2 separate regions of the Homo sapiens genome follow, and region 1 is linked to region 2. The links come from fine-mapping of genetic effects on gene expression. A gene starts in region 2. The other region holds a variant in brackets. All regions are shown on one strand. Distances are between the middles of the regions.

Region 1 (11,490 bases), 23 kb before region 2:
GAATCAATAGACTGAGTAAAGCACATTGCCCTCCCTAATATGGGTGGACCACATCCAATCGATTGAAGAACTGACAAGAACAAAAAGGCGCTCCTGCCAGTAGTGGAAGGCTCTCCCTGCCTGAATGTTTTTGAGCTGGAACACTGATCTTCTCCAGCCTTTAGACACAGATTCAGACTGGAGTTATGCCACTGATGCTCCTGGGTCCCCAGCTTGTCAACTGCAGATCTTGGGACTTCTCAGCCTCCATAATCATGCAAGCCAATTCCTTATAGTAAATCCTCCTCTGTCTGTCTATCTATCTATCTATCTATCTACCTATCTATCTCCTATAGGTTTTGTTTTTCTGGAAAAATCTGACTAATACATTAAAATAACAGTAACCACTAAAAATTAAAACAAAAAAGTAGGGTTAATAAGCCAACAGTTAGTTGAAATGAAAGAAATCCTGACCAGGCCCAGTGACTCACACCTGTAATTCCAGCACTTTGGGAGGCCGAGGCTGGCAGATCACCTGAGGTCAGGAGTTCGAGACCAGCCTGGCCAACATGGTGAAACCCCATCCCTACTAAAAATACAAAAATTAGCCGGGCATGGTGGCATGCGCCTGTAATCCCAGCTGCTCCAGAGGCTGAGACAGGAGAATCGCTTGAACCCAGGAGGCGGAGGTTTCAGTGAGCCAAGATTGTGCCATTGCACTCTAGCCTGGGGAACAAGAATGAAACTCCGTCTCAAAAACAAAACAACAACAACAAAAAGAAATCTTAAAACATATTCAATCTAAAAAAAGGCAGAAAAAGAGGAAAAGGGGAACAAATAACAGATAGTATAAATAAAAAACAGATAGCAAGATGGTAGATTTCAACTTAACCAAGTCAATAGGTTTAAATATCAATATAAGAGTAGAGATTGTCAGACTGAATAAAAACACAAGACTCGCCTGTAGTCCTAGCTACTCAGGAGGCTGAGGCTGGAGAACCGCATGAACCCGGGAGGCGGAGCTTGCAGTGAGCCGAGATTGCACCACTGTACTCCAGCCTGGGTGACAGAGCAAGACTCCATCTCAAAAACAAACAAACAAACAAACAAACACAAGACTCAACCATATTCTGCCCACAATAAATCGCTTTTAAATATAGAGACACAGATAGATCAACAATAAAAGGATAAAAATTCCCATTCACATCAAAAAAAAGTTTGAGTGACTATATTAATATGATATATATATATATTTTTTTGAGACAGGATCTCTGTTGCCCAGGTTGGAGTGCAGTGGTGGTGATCATGGCTCACTGCAACCTTCACCTCCCAGGTTCAAGAGATTCTTGTGCCTCAGCCTCCTCAGAGGCTGGGATTACAGGCACACGCCACCACGCCCGGTTATTTTTTTATTTTTATTTTTATTTTTTGAGACAGAGTCTCGCTCTATTGCTGGAGTGCAATGGTGCCATCTCGGCTCACTGCAACCTCTGCCTCCTGGGTTCATGCAATTCTCCTGCCTCAGTCTCCAGAGTAGCTGGGATTACAGGCATGCACCACCACACCAGGCTAATTTTTGTATTTTTAGTAGAGATGAGGTTTCACCATGTTGGCCAGGCTGGTCTCAAACTGCTGACCTCAAGTGATCCACCCGCCTCGGCCTCCTAAACTGCTGTGATTACAGGTGTGAGCCACCGCGTCTGGCATAATTTGTATACTTTAGTAGAGGTGGGGTTTTGCCATGTTGGCCAGTCTGTCTCAAACTCCTGGACTCAAAAGATCTGCCCACCTCGGCCTCCCAAAGTGCTGGGATTACAGGCATGAGCCACCACGCTGGCCATATATATATATATATATATATATATATATATATATATATATACACACACACACACACACACACACACACACATATACATACTAGTATATATATACATATATAGAATATAGATACATAATCTATTGTATATATATTCTAGTATATATATGTATATATATATATATATATATATATATATATTAGAAAATAAGTTACGCTTTAGAACAAGGACTATAGCCATGGACAAAGAAGAGCATTACATAATGACAAAGGGGTCATTTCACTAAGAAAATATATCAATCCTAAATGTGGTACATACCTAATAATAGAGCTTCAAAAATACATGAAGCACCAAAAATGATAGCATTGAAAGGAGAAATCCACAAATTATAGTTGGATATTTCAACATTCTTCACTTGGTAACTGATAGAAGAAGTAAAAAGAAAATCAGTAAGTATACAGAAGATTTGAACAACATCAAATACTTTGACCTTATCGATCTTTACAGATATTCCACTCAGCAATAGCGGAGTCCACATTCTTTTCAAGTGTACATGGAACATTCACCAAAATAGACCATAATCTGAGCCATAAATTAATTCTCAATAAATTGAGAAGGATTGAAATTATATAAATTATGTTCCCTGACCAGAACAGAAGTAAACTGAAAATCAATAACAACAATAGCCAAAACATCTGGAAATGAAACAACACAAACTTAACCCGTAGATCAAATAAGAAAGCATGAAGAAAATTAGAAAATATTTTGAACTAAAGGAAATTGAACAATACCACATGTCACAAAGTGTAAATGCAGTTAAGGAAGTGCTCACAGGGACATTATAGCATCAAATACTTACATTAGAAGAGAAGAAAGGTCTGGCAGCAACACTTTAAGCTTGCACCTTAAGAAGTTAGAAAAAAATAAAAGAGCAAATTAAACCCAAAGTAAGCAGAAGGAAGGAAATAATATAGATGAGTGAAAATTACTGAAATAGAAAATGTGTAAACAATACAGAAAATGAAACCAGCCAGTTTTAAGAACAGCCAGTTTTTTAAAAGGCAGACTGATCAAGAAAAAAAGAAAAAACACAAATTACCATTATCAGGAATGAATGAACATCACTACAGATCATATAGACATTAAAAAGAAGATACTAAGGAAATATTAGGAACAACTATATGCAAATAAACTCAACACTATGGAATACATTAACAAATTTATTGAAAAACACAAACTACCAAAGCTTTCCCAAGAAGAAATATATAATCTGAATAGTCTTATGTATGAAAAGAAATTGAATTTTTTTTTTTTTTTTGAGACGGAGTTTTGCTCTTGTTGCCCAGGCTGTAGTGCAACGGCGCGATCTTGGCTCACAGCAACCTCTGCCTCCCTGGTTCAAGTGATTCTCCTGCCTCAGCCTCCCGAGTAGCTGGGATTACAAGCATGTGCCACCACGCCCGGCTAATTTTGTATTTTTAGTAGAGACAGTGTTTCTCCATGTTGGTCAAGGTGGTCTCAAACTCCAGACCTCGGGTGATCCACCTGCCTTGGCCTCCCAAAGTGCTGGGATTACAGGCGTGAGCCACTGTGCCCGGCAAGAAATTGAATTTGTATCAGAACTCTTCCCACAGCTGTGCATGGAGGCTCATGCCTGTAATCCCAGTGCTTTTTTAAATAAGCCAGGAGTGGTGGCACACGCCTGTAGTCCCAGATACTTGGGAGGCTGAGGCGGGAGGATCACTTGAGCCCAGAAGTTCAAGGCTGCAGTGAGCTATGATTGTGCCACTGTACTCTGGCCTAGGTGACAGAGAGAGACCCTATCTTAAAAAAAAAAAAAAAAAAAAGGCCAGGCCCAGTGGCTCAAGCCTGTAATCCCAGCGCTTTGGGAGGCCGAGGTGGGCGGATCACGAGGTCAGGAGATCGAGACCATCCTGGCTAACACGGTGAAACCCCGTCTCTACTAAAAATACAAAAAATTAGCCAGGCGTAGTGGTGGGTGCCTGTAGTCCCAGCTACTCGGGAGGCTGAGGGAGGAGAATGGCGTGAACCCAGGAGGCGGAGGTTGCAGTGAGCCGAGATTGCGCCACTGCACTCCAGCCTGGGCAACAGAGCGAGACTCTGTCTCGAAAAAAAGAAAAGAAAAAAAGCCAAAGAACAAAAAACTACAGTGAGCCATCACCTCACACCCATTAGGATAGACACTATCAAAAAACAAAACAAAACAAAACAAAAATTAACAGGTGCTGACAAGGATGTGGAGTAATTTGTACGCTGTGCTCTGTTGGTGGGACTGTAAAATGGTGCAGCCACTACGGAAAACAGTATGCAGATTCCTCAGAAAAATTAAAAATAGGATTACCATATGACTCAGCAATACTACTTCATTTATTTATTTATTTATTTATTTATTTATTTATTTATTTATTTTGAGATGGAGTTCTGCTCTTGTTGCCCAGGTTGGAGTGCAATGGTGCGATCTTGGCTCACTGCAACCACCGCCTCCCAGGTTCAAGTGACTCTCCTGCCTCAGCCTTCCGAGTAGCTGGGATTACAGGTACCCGCCATCATGCCCGGCTAATTTTGTGTTTTTAGTAGAGATGGGGTTTCACCATGTTGGTCAGGCTGGTCTCGAACTCCTAACCTCAGGTGATCCACCTGCCTCGGCCTCACAAAGTGCTGGGATTACAGGCATGAGCCACTGCACCTGGCCAATACTACTTCTTAATATATACCCAAAAGGACTGAGAGCAAGAGAGAGCTTGAGGAGATACTTGCACACCCATATTCATTGCAGCACTGTTCACAACAGCTAAGAGGTGGGAGCAAACTAAACGGCCATCAATGGATGAATGGATAAGCAAAATGTAGTATATAAATATAATGGAATATTACTTAGCCTTTAAAAATAAAGAAATCCTGTCACATGCTACAGTGTGGGTGAAACTTGAAGACATGCAAAGTGAAACAAATCAGTCAGAAAAAGACAAATACAGTATGATTCCACTTATATGAGGTATCTAAAGTATTCAAACTTATAGAAACAAAGTAAAATGATAATTGCCAGGTGCTGGGGAAAGAGGGGAATGGGGGGGCGGTTTTTACTCAGTGGGTATTGAGTCCCGTTTTGAAAGATGGAAATATTCTAGAGATCTGTGGCACAACAGTGTGAATGTGCTTAACATACTGAATTGTACACTTAAACAAGGTTAAGATGGTAAAATTTATTATATGTTTTTACCACAATTTTTTAAATGTACAAAAAAAAAAAAAAAAAACAACTCCGAAAAGCAAACAAGCAAAAAACCTCATTGCAAGATTACCACAAACCCACCAGAATGAAGAGAGACAGTGTCAGGTGTTGGTAGGGATATGCAGTAACTGGATCCTGAGTCCTCTCTGTCATTTTTTTTTTTTGTAAAGCTTACTTCTCTATGGATCTCACACATTACTAGTGGGAGTGTAAACTGGTCAACCACTTTGGAAAACTGTCATTATTTAACAAACAAACATTTTCCTACTCTGTTATCCAGCATTTCCACTCCTGGGTCTCCAAGTCCAGGCATCCATCAAAAGACACAGATGTAATGTTCATAACAGCTTTTTCATTATAGCTCCAAACTGAAAATAACCCTTAAGTCCACCAAGAGCCAAACAGGTTAAATACATTGTAATATATTCATACAACTAATATGACACAATGATAAAATGAATGAACTGCTGCCATATACAACACCATGGATGAGTCCCACACAAGTAATACTGAGCAGATGAAGCCAGACAAAAGAATACATACTTATGTTTATATGAAGTTGAAGGATTAGACAAAACTAATCTATGGTGATAGAAAGCCAAATAATTGTTAGGGGGTATGGAGGGATTGACCAGAGAGCTATTGATTGGTAGGAGTTACAATGGGGCCTTCTGGTAAGCCGGAAACATCTTGATCTAGGTGGTGGTTACACAGATGGGATCTATGCAAAAATATATTGAGCCAGAGGTTTAATATTAGGTTCTATAATACTATATATCAACAAAAAGTGAAGAAAAAGTAGAAAAATAGACCCAAATAGAAAAAATTCTGGGGCCGGGCATGGTGGCTCACGCCTGTAATCCCAGCACTTTGGGAGGCTGAGGCGGGCGGATGACCTGAGGTAGGGAGTTCGAGACCAGCCTGACGAACTGGAGAAACCCCATCTCTACTAAAAATACAAAATTAGCTGGGCGTTGGCCGGGTGCAGTGGCTCATGCCTGTAATCTCAGCACTTTGGGAGGCTGAGGCGGGCGGATCACCTGAGGTCGGGAGTTCGAGACCAGCCTGACCAACATGGAGAAACCCCGTCTCTATTAAAAATACAAAAAATTAGCTGCGCATGGTGGCACATGCCTGTAATCCCAGCTACTAGGGAGGCTGAGGCAGGAGAACCCGGGAGGCAGAGGTTGCGGTGAGCTGGGATTGTGCCATTGCACTCCAGCCTGGGCAACAAGAGCGAAACTCTGTCTCAGAAAAAACAAACAAACAAAAAAACAAAAACAAAACAAAACAAAAACATTTTGGAAGCAAAATTTAGTTTTGTCATATTTCTATATTCATGTTTACGTGGATATAGAATAAAATTCCCATTTGGATGCATTTTTCTCTCAGCGGTTCAAGCTCAACAGAACCTGCAAATGAGAGGAGGCTGCAGAAGCAAAGCATAAGAAGACATATCATGGCTAGGAGCCGTGGCTCACACCTCTAATCCCAGCACTTTGGGAGGCTGAGGCAAGCGGATCACCTGACGTCAGGAGCCGAGACCAGCCTGGCCAACATGGTGAAAACCCGTCTCTACTAAAACTACACAAATTAGCTGGGCGTGGTGGCACACACCTGTGGTCCCAGCTACTCGGGAGGCTGAAGTGGGAGAATCGCTTGAACTCAAGAGGCGGAGGTTGCAGTGAGCCGAGATTGCACCATTGCACTCCAGCCTGGGTGACAGATCAAGACTTCATCTCAAAAAAGAAGACACATCAATCCTAAATCTAAATGTGGTACACACCTAGGAAGACACATCAACCTTAAATGTACACACCTAATAACAGAGCTTCAAAAATATATGAAGCACCGAAAATGATAGAATTGAAAGGAGAAATGGACAAATCCACAATTATAGTAAGATATTTCAACAGTTCTCACTTGGTAAAATCACTTGTAAAATCACTCTGCCCATTTTACAGAGGAAAAACTGAGGCCTAAAAGGAGAAGGGGTGGGGGCTGAAGTCAGTGGCAGAGCCAGGCTTAGGACACAGAGCTCAGGCACACCTCTACATGCCCCCTGGACAACCACCTGCAGGAAGGGACTGGATTGTGAGGGGGTGTCCCCAGTCCCATGCAGGTTGAGGAGGAAGCAGGGTCTCAGGGCTGAGGTCAGGGAGGGGGGGCACTCCTTAGAGACCAGACAGCCAGGAATGCCACTGTTTGTCGTAGTTTCACTGATTTTAAGGAGGTTAAACCTCTATTTGGGTCTCAGAAATAAAGAGAAGAGCCTGCAATTCCAGGATAGCACGCTAACGAAGGGCCAAAACGCAAAGGCGTCCTGAGGGCTAAGATGGAAAGTGAAACTTTCAAGCTCCTTCTCTAACCTTGGCCAAGGTCGTTCCCTCTGGGTTCATAGAATAGGGAGGAACCCATGTAAGGCACAGGGAACAGAAGAAAGGAGGCAGGTAGAGGGACAACCTTCAGCCTGGTGCAGCCATCCCGGT[C/G]GAACAACCCCAGGCAGGAGCCGCTCGGTGGCCGAGGATGGCGGGAAGTCGCTGGGCTGCGGCTGGGGCGGGAGGTGGGCGGAGGAGGGTCCGGCGCTCTCTTTCTCCGGATTCGGAGCCCTAAGTGTGGATCAGTCGCCTCCCGCCCAGGGTGTGAGCGCCCCCTCCCCTTCTCAGCCTCCTTCGGCCTCGCCCCTCCCTCTCACATTTCCAACTCCCAAGGATAACTTGTCGCTCGCTTCAGACGCCCATGGCTTCTTTCAGCCCCTGGGACTCAGCTTTCTCCTCTACCTCTTTTGTCTATTTGTGCATTTGATGTTTCTCTGGGCGCGCCCTTGGATCTGCTTCTCTCTTGCCTTTTATATTCTCATATTCTCATATTCTCTCTCTCTCTCTCTCTCTCTCTCTCTCTCTCCCTCCCTCCCTCCCTCCCTCTCTCCCTCCCTCTCTCCCTCTCTGCCTCTCTCCCTCTCTCTCTCTTCTCTCTCTCTCTCTCTTCTCTCTCTCTTCTCTCTCTCTCTGCTCTCTCCGGCCATCTGGGCGCTGCTCCTCCGCGCCTCTGGCCTCCCCGCGGCGCGCCAGGCCCATCTCCTCACCAGCCGCTCTGGGATCCGACGGCGCCGTGGGTGGGGGCAGGTGAGACGGCCGAGCCCCGCCCGGGCGGAGGCAGGAAGCGCTCTCGCCTATCCCCCTCCCGGACCCTGTCCTCGCCCGCCACTCACCGGCGCCAGGGGAACGCAGGAGCGTGAGCCCCTTCGCGCCCCCAGCGCCGTCGGCGTCGCTGCCCCAGACACAGACACTGCCTCGAGAGGCCTCACAGAGGCGGGGGCAGAAGGCGGCGACCCAGAGCCGCCACATCCCCCGCCTTGGGCGCCGTCACAGTCCCCAGACGCCCTGGACTCCTGCAGTCTACGAAGACGCGCGGGGGACGGCGTGGTTCCGAGAGGTAGGTGAGGAGGCGGGCGCAGCCCTTCCTCTCGCAGCTGGGGACTGCGGCGTGAAAGGCCCCTCTCCAAGCTGGGCAGCCCCGTGGCCCGAGCTTTCAGGACCAACCGCCCGTGGCAGGCGTGGGCTTCCCGGGGCCACCGGCTTAACCTTGATCTCCAGACCGAGGCAGCTTCCCGGGTAGGGCCTCGGGGCGCACCCGAAAACGCCTTGGCCTCCCTGTCCGCTGGCACCCGACCCTACCTCTCCAACAGGTGTGTGTGTGGGGAAAGGGGGTCGCCTCCCCTCGTTCTACCGGAAACCCTGGCTCCCCAGAGCCGAGTGCTCAGTGCCCCGCCCAGCCTGAGGCCCTGCGTCCTGGGCCTCCTGCTCACAACCCCGGATTCCAGGCGGATGCCGTGAGAGAGGCAAGGGCCAGACGCCCTGAGCAGCCTTGGGGGTGAGGAATCGCTTGGGATGGAAGAAGGGCCACTTTTCCTAACGGAAATTAGGAATTGGCCTGGAACTCTTGGTCTAGACAGAAGCCCCCAGCTCCCCAAGGTGCAGAATCAGCTCTCCCGCGCGCTGTCTCTCTAGCTGCCTCCTGGCGTGGAGGGGGCAGAATACTTGGGGGAGTCTCTTGCTTTGGCTTTTGGGGGCCTCATAGGTTTTCTTCCCCTCTGGACTGTGAGCAGCCTCCTGCCTGAGAGAGCGTGTATCTGAATCTAAGGAATGCCAGGAGACGCCATCTTATTTGAAACCCACACTCACAAAAACGGGGCATGTGCATTTTTGTGGAGGGACCTGTTGTTTATGGGAGTGGGCAGAGGGCATCCAAAGGATTTCAAACTGTATGGACTGACTCATGGGTCAATACAAAAATTATTCGCCTTTGAAAAGGCATGTAAAGAAAAGCAAGCATAAAGGGGTGTGCATCGTGCATCGTGGGTATTGTGGAGTCTGAGAGGAATTAGTAACTCGCCGGAGTCGGCTAGGAATCTTATATGACAGCAACTGTGCCTCTCGGAGTAGTCAAGCACCGTTTAAAGATTGAGGATTTATACAGACATGCGAAAGAGATGTGAAATTATGTGCTCCCAACTGTGCTCAATAATAAAGGCAGTAGAAGGGAAATTCATATTTTCATCTATATGCCTCCCCCCTCGCAAAGTAGAACATTGCATGGTATATTTCACATAGTCCACATACCAGAGGCGGAATGTGCAACTGACTGCCCAGGACTGTGCTTTCCAGTACAAATGGAAGCACAAAGATGCCTAATGGAGAAGAGTTAAGTGAAAGTTCTCTTTTCTCAGTGCACTTCCCTAACCCTTTGAGGAAGCAAGTCTGGGGGGCCTTTCCTGATAGGATCTTCCCTCCAAATCCCTTTTGGAGCTGGAGCTCCTCTCTTTCCCTAAAGTCTGGCGCACTTGGCTCCAAGTCCCCATTTCTCCAGTCCAGAAGGGATGAAGCCTCCTCCACCCCAAACATATAGCCTTTGGCTCGCTGGGAGGAGAATTGCTCACCTTCTGCGGTGGTTTAGAACACCACCCTACACAGGGATACACATACACAGTGCCCCAGAGGAAATGCAAAGAAAGGTTTTGCTAGTCCAAGCAAGGTGTTGTGGGAGACCTCAGAGACCCTTAGAAAGAGCCTCACTCCCCACACTGCAACTTGAAAGACCCAGGACATCCCTCCCACCCCCAGGACAGACAGGGTTCTCACCAGCTGGGAACGCACAGAGCCCGTGACAACAGGAGGATCTGTTGGGCTGGGAACTTCACATCCCACCCACCCTGCCTCCAACTTCTTTTTTTTTCTGGCCAGATTAAAAGTCAAGCTTAAAGTGCTGTTGGGTTAGAGAGTTTCATTGTTTTAGTCTATTGGTTTCTCTCCCTCATTTTCTTCTCCCTCATCTCCCTTTTACTCCCAGGTTTTGCCCATTTTTTTTCTCTCTCTCCACACAGAAAATCTGTGAATTTTCTGGGCTTGAACGGAAGGAATGAGGAGGGAAAGGAGGGAATATTTGACCTATCCAGGCAGCACTCAGAGCTGTAATTGACACCAAGTCATCCTAGTAGACCTTGTCCTCACAGGCTTAGAGGATATTTGATTCCAGAATCCCCCACCAGCACCCCAAGATCCAGTGGTACCTCCTTCCTCCTTGGGGCTTCTATAGTTTTCAAAAATGGGAGAAATCAAAAATGCCATCATTATTCCAGTGACCGGGTGTGGAGGGAGTCTGCAGTTTGGCCAGAGGCCTGGTCTCAGAGAAAGGAGTCCTGAGGGCTGGGGGGTTGGGGCAAGGCCTAGGGCCAACTTGGTTCTGACCTTGCCTGCCAGTAGAGAATCTTGGGCTCTTCACCAAGTAAAGGCAAGATCAAGGGACTGGAGGTCTGAGTCCCTCTCTTGCCTAACTGCCCCAAGGGCCCCAGAAACTACTCTGGGCCAAAAATCAGTAATAGTTGAAAGAAAGAAACAAATACTGAAAACACCCAGATTTATAATCTGCTTAGACACCCAAACTCATCCTTAAAGCAGTAAATAAAATTTATCTCCTTGACTGCCTTGCAACTTTCTACTCAGTTTGGCAATGTGTAGATGGGGTCAGCTTGAGTTTCAGAGCTTGGGGGTCCAGCACTAAATGTCTAGAGAGCTAGATCTGGGGCCTCTCACCCCCTTTCCTCATATACCTCCTCTTGCTTCCTTCCCCTCCCAGGGCTTCTCAGAAAGTGACAGCTGACTTCCTTTTAGAACTGTGAAATCCCACAATTTCAGAGGATTTCAAATTCCTTGAACTTCAGGTTGAGAGCTATTTGGATTAATCAGAGAAGTTTGTGTCTGGAAAATGATGCCAGATTTAGCCAGAAAACTGAAAGACCAAATGCTTTACTTTTTTTTTCCTTTGTCTGATCTCAGTGCTTATCAGGTCAACCTTCACCTTTAAAAACACCCTGGTGGCAGTATTTCTTTGCCATCACTGTCTGTAAAGCAAAGGGCAAGCATCTCAGGGCTTTTAGTT
Region 2 (8,000 bases):
TAATTCAAGTACACAAATACCCAAGCTTTTGCCTTTTCCATAGGTGTGTGATGGTTATAAAAATGTACACACAACCTTTTGGGTAACTGATCTTCTTACACGAGCAGAATCAGAAACCTCCATCACTCACAGAGGTTATGCATGCATCCACATATGCACGATTAGATCCTGCATACACGAACGCCCAAGCACAGCAAGTTTCATAGTTGGGCAGATTTATTTATTACATATTCTATATACAGTATAGAGCAGAGTGCATTTGCACACTGGGTTCCCCATACAGAAATATTGATTTGAAATATACATATAGGACACACACATCTATTTACATTAAACACGCGTAAATTTCAGCTAAGCTTATTAATTAAAAACAAACTATTTTTCCCCATTCTCACTTATTGTTTTTCTTTCTTCTCCCATTTCCTTCCCTTCCTCTAGATTTTCTCTCTCTTCTTACTGACAAGGACCCTTCCAAAAGTCACCCCCACAGCATAGGCACTCACCGGCTGGTCGGCCTCTGCTCTTCAAACCTCGGCCTCACTGTTGGCTGCTCTGGGCCCCAGTGTGGCCAGGAGCTGCGCTTTTTTCCCTGCTTGCCCTTCTCCAAGCTACCAGCTACTGGCCCCAGCTGTGTTCAGGCGAGGCTCCAGTGCAGGGAATGGCAAAAGGCTGCAAGGGAAGGCAGGGTTTTCCTTCTTTCTGTTTAGGATTGGGGGTGGGGTATGGAGCAGTTTTGCTCTCTTAGGATAAGGTGACCCCCACTGAAGCAACCCCTTTACTAAGTGTCTTTGGAAGCTGGGCTCCAGGAGCCACAATCCTGTTTGCTATCCTCCTTCATGGTGGGTACCATTGTCTGGGGAGAAAACAAGGCTTTTTTGGTGGGAGGGAGTCCACAGTCTCTCAGCTGACCCTTTAATCATTTGCCTGAGCTGGAGTTGAACTCCAGTTTGGGGCAGCAGTGCTTTCCAGAAAGCTTGGCTGGGGTGGGACTCCTTGCTTGGTGCATTTACCTGGACGGCAAAGAGCTGGGATGCAGACTACAGGGCTTAGGGGCCAGTTCATTCTCTTTCCTCTGGAGTCATTGCTCCCTGAGAAGACCAAGACCTCCAAAACCTGTCATTTTAAAATTGTCTCCACTCTCCAGCTTCTTCATGAGCAAAGGCTAAGTTCCGATCTCAGAAAAGAGGCCTAAGTCCCCTTCTCACCCAGCACTCAGGAGCCACCAGGGAATAAAGGGCAACTCCTCAGACAGACAGCAACCCACAAACCCAAATCTTGTCTGCTGGGAGAACTCACCCTTGTAGAGCACAAGCCATCAGCCCAAGTGTTCTTCTTCCTCTAACTTCTTCCCTAAACTGAGTGGTCCTCTTGACTCCTCTCTTGTTGCAGAGAGGCAGCTGCAAAGTCAGGGCAGGAGAGGGAAGGGGAACCAGGAAGACGGCAGTCAGAGCGCAGTGCCTGCTTTGCTTGGGTCTTAAGGACAGCCCAGCGCTGTGACTTTTCAATAAATAAAAAAACCCCAGTCCGTAGTAAACATGTCCTTTTAGGCCCTAATTTATATACTACAGAAATCATATACTCAGCCCACCATGCTTCATAACACCATTATTTATGGCGGGGGAGGGAATCTTTTTTCCTGAAGAGTGTATTTATGACAGGTAAAGCCAACAGCAGACTTCATAGGGCTGGCAAATTGAGAACAGGTGCTTTGCCTTAACTGTGATTCATTCGCTCAGTGCCCAGCTTTTTCGCTGGTGAGTCCGGGGAGCTCCCTCGACTTTCCCAAGCGTCCAACCTCTGCTTGGAAGAATTTGCATCGGATTTTTGTTTCCCCACTTGGGTCCTATGGAAAAGGCAGACCTTCATGCTGTTTGGTTACGGATCTGCCGGGCTGTCACCCTCGGAGAGCAGGGGTGGGAAAGGAGGGGGCCAGATGGGCGCCGGCATTGATCTTTAAAAAATCATTTTGAAATCGCCATAATGTGAAGAAATATGGCGCTTCACCCTCGTATTTCACGTGTAATGACACGAGATGGCTTCATTTGGAAAGACAAGCGGGTGGGAGTGTGTGCCTGTGTGGGAGGTGATCCGCAGCCTTCTACAAGGCAGAGGGGTAGGTGGCCAAAAAGATACGGACTCAAGTTAGAGTGGCCCCTCTTTTGCTAAAAGGACCGGACTGAGGGCAGCCTGCCTTATTAGGACTCAGAGTCAGAGAGTTGCCGAGAAATCCACCCCAATCTACCCCTGAGCCTAACCAGAGGAGAACTGGGTCTGTCCAGGGGTCACACCTCCCCAAGTGCCAGGAGAGGCGACTGCAACCAGGGCAGAAGCTGAGGAGCAGGGGCTGGGAGAGGAGCGAGGAAGCCAGTCGGTGGGCCCCGGGGGAGTCCCTGTGCAGGGCCACAGAATAGATATATATAAAAAGGGCTATTTGGAAGCTCCAATGAAGGGGTCTGCAGGGGGTAAGGCAGTGAGGGGAAGAGACTGACCATGGGCTCGCTGTCCACACTGGCCCCTATATCGGTGTTTGGAAATCTCCAGAGCAGGAGCCTCAGGTGAGAGGAGTAGTACAGGAGGGCTGAAAACTCAGCCCAGGCTCCTTCCTCTTTGGATGGAAGGGGAGATAACTTGGGACCCCTTCCCTTGCTGACTGGGGATCCTTTCCCAGGCCTCTGCTCTGGTCACACCTCAGGAAAGTGGCCTTAACCCTTTCTCCTATTTAGCTCCCTCATCAGGGCAAATTTAGGGGCCTGGGTGGTTATTCAGTGGAGAAAAGGAGAAATGGCTTCCCTCACCCCCACCCCCCACGTCACCACCACCATCTTAAATCCATCCTTCTGGCCAGAGTCAGAGAAAGGCCCAATAAATGTAAAGGCGCTCTGGTTCCTTGTATTAAACTCTTTCCTAGGCTCACGTTTCCGGGACCTGATGGATCCCTTTAACCTCAAGTAGTTTCTAATTTCAGGACAGATAGTGGATTCTTGGACACTCAGTCGTTTTATTCACCTCTCTCCTCCTCCCTCAGCTACTGAGGGGCCCAGGGAAGCTCGCAGTCATGTAAATCTCTACAAAGAGTGCAAGGAGAGCCCCCTCCAAAGCGGACAACGTCCTAAAATCCCCAACTTTTCCCCTCATCATTTTACTTCATCTCCTGTGGATTGCTGCTGCTGTTGTTGTTTAATAAACATCTTTTGTCAAGGGGAAAGAGAAGAGGAAATGAGGGCCTGCGGGGTGGAGGTGTGTGTGGGGGGACAGGAGCACCTCCTCTTCCAGTATCCTCTCGGGCCTCTATGGCTTCTCCCCGGGCTGGGGCTCTCTCCCTCCCTCCGCCCTTGCTCTCCCTCCCTCCCCGACCCGCCTGGGGAGAGGGCTCTACAGCCTGCGTCCCTCCCAAGGCAGCCCGCCGCTTCCCTCCGCCTCTCCTCCGCCCCCGCCGCCCCATGTTGAGAACTGCCCCCCTTCCTGCAGCGGGAGGGGGGGACCGGGCGGCCGGTAGCTGGGGCTGAGGTTACGTGGCCGCCGGAGCCCTGACGTGATAGCACATTGCATCAGCATAAAACAATCCATCCTCGATATGGAGTGCGGTGCGGACGGATGACAGCGAGAGCGCAGCCCCCTCGCCCGATTGATTTATGTCGGAGCTGACGCTTTATCAGGCAGTCGGAAAAACTTTGACCAATCATTTTGCAAGGAGAGCTGAGACGGGCTGCTCCACTGTACTTTGTTGGCTGAGAAGTTGAGCAGGGGGTGGGGGTGGGAGGGTGGGGGGCTGGGGGGGTCGCGTCCGAAAGCCCTCACACCGGTCCGGGTGCCACCTCTCCCTGCTTGGGCGCCGCCGCGCGAGCGCTTCCCTTCCCCCTGCAAGCGCCCGGATAATGTCTGAGAATGTCCATTTCTGGGACGCTTAGCAGCTATTATGTCGACTCGATCATAAGTCACGAGAGTGAGGACGCGCCTCCAGCCAAGTTTCCTTCTGGCCAGTACGCGAGCTCGCGGCAGCCGGGCCACGCGGAGCACCTGGAGTTCCCCTCGTGCAGCTTCCAGCCCAAAGCGCCGGTGTTCGGCGCCTCCTGGGCGCCGCTGAGCCCGCACGCGTCCGGGAGCCTGCCGTCCGTCTACCACCCTTACATCCAGCCCCAGGGCGTCCCGCCGGCCGAGAGCAGGTACCTCCGCACCTGGCTGGAGCCGGCGCCGCGCGGCGAAGCGGCCCCGGGGCAGGGCCAGGCGGCGGTGAAGGCGGAGCCGCTGCTGGGCGCGCCTGGGGAGCTGCTCAAACAGGGCACGCCCGAGTACAGTTTGGAAACTTCGGCGGGCAGGGAGGCCGTGCTGTCTAATCAAAGACCCGGCTACGGGGACAATAAAATTTGCGAAGGAAGCGAGGACAAAGAGAGGCCGGATCAAAGTAAGTTATAAAAAGTGAGGAAATACCCAGGCCGAAGGCCAGGAGGGGGGCGGGGAGGGGAAAGGCAATAAACTGCGGACAATGTGAAGGGAAACTGCGGCGGTGGCCGGAGAGCGGGCCGGGAGGAGGAGGGGAGAGGAAGGAAAGACGGAGGGAAGGGGAAAGCTGCGTGCTCTAGAAGGGGAGACTGAGGCCGCCAGAGGAGCGCTGCCCCCACTTCTCCAAGTCCTGCGGGGAACAGGGGCTCGGGGATCGACTTGCAGCTCTCTCGGCCCTCTTTCCCCCTCTCTCCCGGAGGCCCCAGCTGAAAGCCCGGCCAGAGACCGGCGACGGCCGGGAGAGGAGCTGGCGGGGGCCGGGGCCAGCGGCCAGCGAGGCCGAGAGCCGGCGAGGGCAAGGGCCGGAGCGCACTGGGCTGCCCGGGGCCGTGCGGCTGGCAGAGCTCCCCGCGCCACGCGCAGACCGTAAAAGCCGGCCAAGGGGAAGGGGGAGGGAGCTCATTAGGATTTTATTTGCGATGCAACAGCTTGGCGGAGGATTGTTCCTAGCAGATCTCGCGCTGTAGCCGCGCAGAGTCCGCAACCGGCGACAGGAGGGGCGGGGGAAGCCCAGGACGCGGTGACTGAGCCCCCTCCCCGGATGCGCCGGCCCCTCCCCGGGAGCCTTCCCTCCGGTGGCCCCTCTCCTCCTCGGCGTCCTCGCAGGGGCTACCGCTTCCTTTTCTGCGGTCCCCCGCTGCTCTCTGCGGGGCTCCCGAGCCCCAGCCCGGGCTGTCCGCCTCTTGGGGAGTCGGGGAATCGCTTCCGAATATCGGGGCATCTCGAAGGGACCCCGGGGAGAGGAGGGGTGGGGGGAAGAGAGAGTTGCAGAGAGGCGGAGAACTTTACCCTTTGTGGGTAGTTTCCCGTCACCTCCCACTCCTCAAAAGCACCCCGGCCAGAACGCCAAGTCTGGCTGATTTTCAGGAGGTGCTACTAGATGAGAAGAGAGGGTTCTCCTATTATTTATTTTTAAGGTTGAGAAGGGCTCATCGGTGAGGGAACTCAGCCTCAAACAATGACTCGCAGGCTGGTGGATCAGGTCCTCGTTTCTTACTCTTTTTGGGAAGTAGGGATGTTTTAGTCTCTCCTTGCCCTGCTAGATTTCCCATTGACGGAGTGGCCCCAGGGCCCTTTAGAGCATCCTTGCCTGCTGGAGAGTAAAGAGCAGCCCCATTCCTTGCAGGGTCCTGTCACCTCCAACCTGCCAGGTGGAATCCTAAGAGCTGGCATTTAGGGAACACATTCTTCCCCAACCCTCCCCGCACACTCCCAAACAGATCCCCCACCCTAAACCCCCAAATTCTGCCTGAAAAGCCCATTATGGCAAGGCAGCCATTTGGCTAGGATCAATTATTAACAGTTTTTTCCCTCTTTCATATTTAATGCGGCTGCGGGTCCCATCCCAGGCAATCACATTAAGGAAATAGCGCTGCAAATTGGTAAGACACGGTACTTAGTGTAGGATGAACCAAATTTTTTATATAAAAAAATCCAGTGTTTTTCACTTGGGGAGAAGGAAGCTAGTAGCTGGTGGCTGTTATTTTTAATTGGCTTAGCTTTATTTGGCAACTTTTTTGAGTTCCAGAGTAGGGGGAGAGAAGGTAAGAAGAGAAGCCTGTATATATTTTTGTTTCCTCTCTTCCACTCGGTTACCCTCTTCTCCCCTCCAGCCCCCACATAGGATCAATTAAGGCTAGGTGTGCTGTGAAGGGCTTCCTTTTACCTCCACATCACCCCTGGCTCCCCACCTTGGGACTGGAGCAATTTTATTCCCTAATTTCCCTGCACTTGCGTTAACCAAACTGTGAGCTGAGCAGGAGCTGAAAAGGAGAGAGACTATTGCAACCATAAGTTATCTGTGAGCCCCCAGTGCTCCCCTGTCCATAAGCTGGAGTTGATAAATGGTTGCAATTGCATTGCGTGTGAATTGGAGTGTGCTGGCTGTTTGTGGCTCTAAGTGCAGACCCATATTCGTGGTGTGTGGTGGTGGCAGGGGGGGAGATTTCTACGCAGACACACATGCCTGCTGCCATGTGGTCTAGAGACACAAGCTTGTTTGTGATCAAGGCAGGGGATATTGGGACTGGACTGAAGGGCTGAGAGGTCTCTTGGGGTGAAGTGACACCCCAAATGCAGTGACTGAACAGACATCTCACTTCCCCACCCAACTCCTCCTCTCACCTCCTAGAGCCAGGACCCTTCAGGTCAGCCACCCACCCCTAGTCAGCCTGGGAGTGCTGCTGGTGGGACTTCAACCATGCTGAACTCTGACCTGAGTCCTAAGCAGTTTGGACCCAAGTAGAGAAAAATTGAGAGGGAACTTGATGTAGGCAGAGCTTTGGAAGTGCTGAGGAAGCCTGGGCCCACGTTTGGCTCCATCCTTTCCACACAGCCTCTCACCTGGAGGTGTCTATAGCAATGGCTGGCCCATCTGTGACACCCTTCCTGGGAGCTTGAAGACCCAGGTGGCCTCTTCTCCAGTGCAAGATGGGGAGTGGAGACCAAGGGAGTGCCCTCTTGATCTGGGGCCCTTCACCCCCTTCCTTTCTTTGATTCTATCGCTGCTTCTCTTTCAGCCAACCCCTCCGCCAACTGGCTGCACGCTCGCTCTTCCCGGAAAAAGCGCTGTCCCTACACCAAATACCAGACGCTGGAGCTAGAGAAGGAGTTTCTGTTCAATATGTACCTCACCAGGGACCGTAGGCACGAAGTGGCCAGACTCCTCAATCTGAGTGAGAGACAAGTCAAAATCTGGTTTCAGAACCGGCGGATGAAAATGAAGAAAATGAATAAGGAGCAGGGCAAAGAGTAAAGATTAAAGATTACCCCCAGTCCTCCCTAGCTCTTCCCCATCTCACTCTTAGTTATGTGACGACTGCAAAGCCAGTGCTGTCTGGGATGTATTCAAGTGAATGGGGAAGGGAGTCTCTCTTCCAAGTCCTTTATCTGCACCTAGAACCTCCCTCCTTTCCTTTGCCCTTACCTGTCTCTCTCTTCTCTCTAGGTGTCAGGAGAAAGTTTTGTTGATTTAGAAGATAGAAATAGTTGGTTCCTAAGAATGTGATGGGCCACAAGGAAAGAGAGACCCCAGTCAAGCTCCTAGTATGCCCTGTAATTTTTCTGGGAAGTCCTAGCCCCTCACTTCCAGCTTGCCTGTTTCTTCTCTACACCCACCCAAAAGTCACCCAGGGACACTCCAACTCTACACAGCTCAGCAGACATCCACACACAGTAATGGGGTGAGCTCACAACCACCATTCAGTCAAGTGAGGTGACACTCCAGTTGCAGACCATCGCACACCAAATTTGGCAAAACAGCCCTCAGACTGTCAGGCAAGCCCGGGTTCTACCCCTAATGCAAATACCCACCAGGGAGATGTCTAGAGGCAGACTCCTGAGTGAGGTGTTGCAGCCCAAAGGCTGCAGCATTGCCATACCATTCCCATGGAGTTGCCAACTATTCTCAGGCCAAGGGCCATGGGGAAGATGGAGCAAACCTAGCCCCCAAGCCGGTGGGCTAGAAAGTACAAGAAAAGGCAGCACGTGGTTTTATGAAG

The links. PIP is the estimated chance that this variant, and not a neighbour inherited with it, causes the effect. A credible set is the group of variants that fine-mapping cannot tell apart.
Region 1: its variant is the best candidate, but not a certain one, in a credible set for the expression of HOXB9 in whole blood (TOPMed, PIP 0.56).

Annotation. Positions count from the first base shown.
Region 1 is chr17:48,643,602-48,655,091 of GRCh38, reverse strand. LINC03057 (long intergenic non-protein coding RNA 3057) reads left to right here and starts at 8,240. Exons shown (of 2, transcript NR_186590.1): 1 at 8,240-8,487. It overlaps LINC02086 (long intergenic non-protein coding RNA 2086), which reads right to left. Exons shown (of 8, transcript NR_189645.1): 1 at 8,730-11,490; 2 at 2,659-2,703; 3 at 2,118-2,221. RefSeq lists enhancers at 7,447-7,656, 8,547-8,596, 8,035-8,703 and a silencer at 8,147-8,326. The variant C/G (reference allele first, on the strand shown) is at 7,542.
Region 2 is chr17:48,622,155-48,630,154 of GRCh38, reverse strand. HOXB9 (homeobox B9) reads left to right here and starts at 3,797. Exons shown (of 2, transcript NM_024017.5): 1 at 3,797-4,402; 2 at 7,020-8,000. The coding sequence starts at 3,886. The coding sequence ends at 7,255. It overlaps HOXB-AS4 (HOXB cluster antisense RNA 4), which reads right to left and starts at 1,457. Exons shown (of 2, transcript NR_046611.1): 1 at 1,297-1,457. RefSeq lists a silencer at 2,701-2,856 and an enhancer at 4,267-4,944.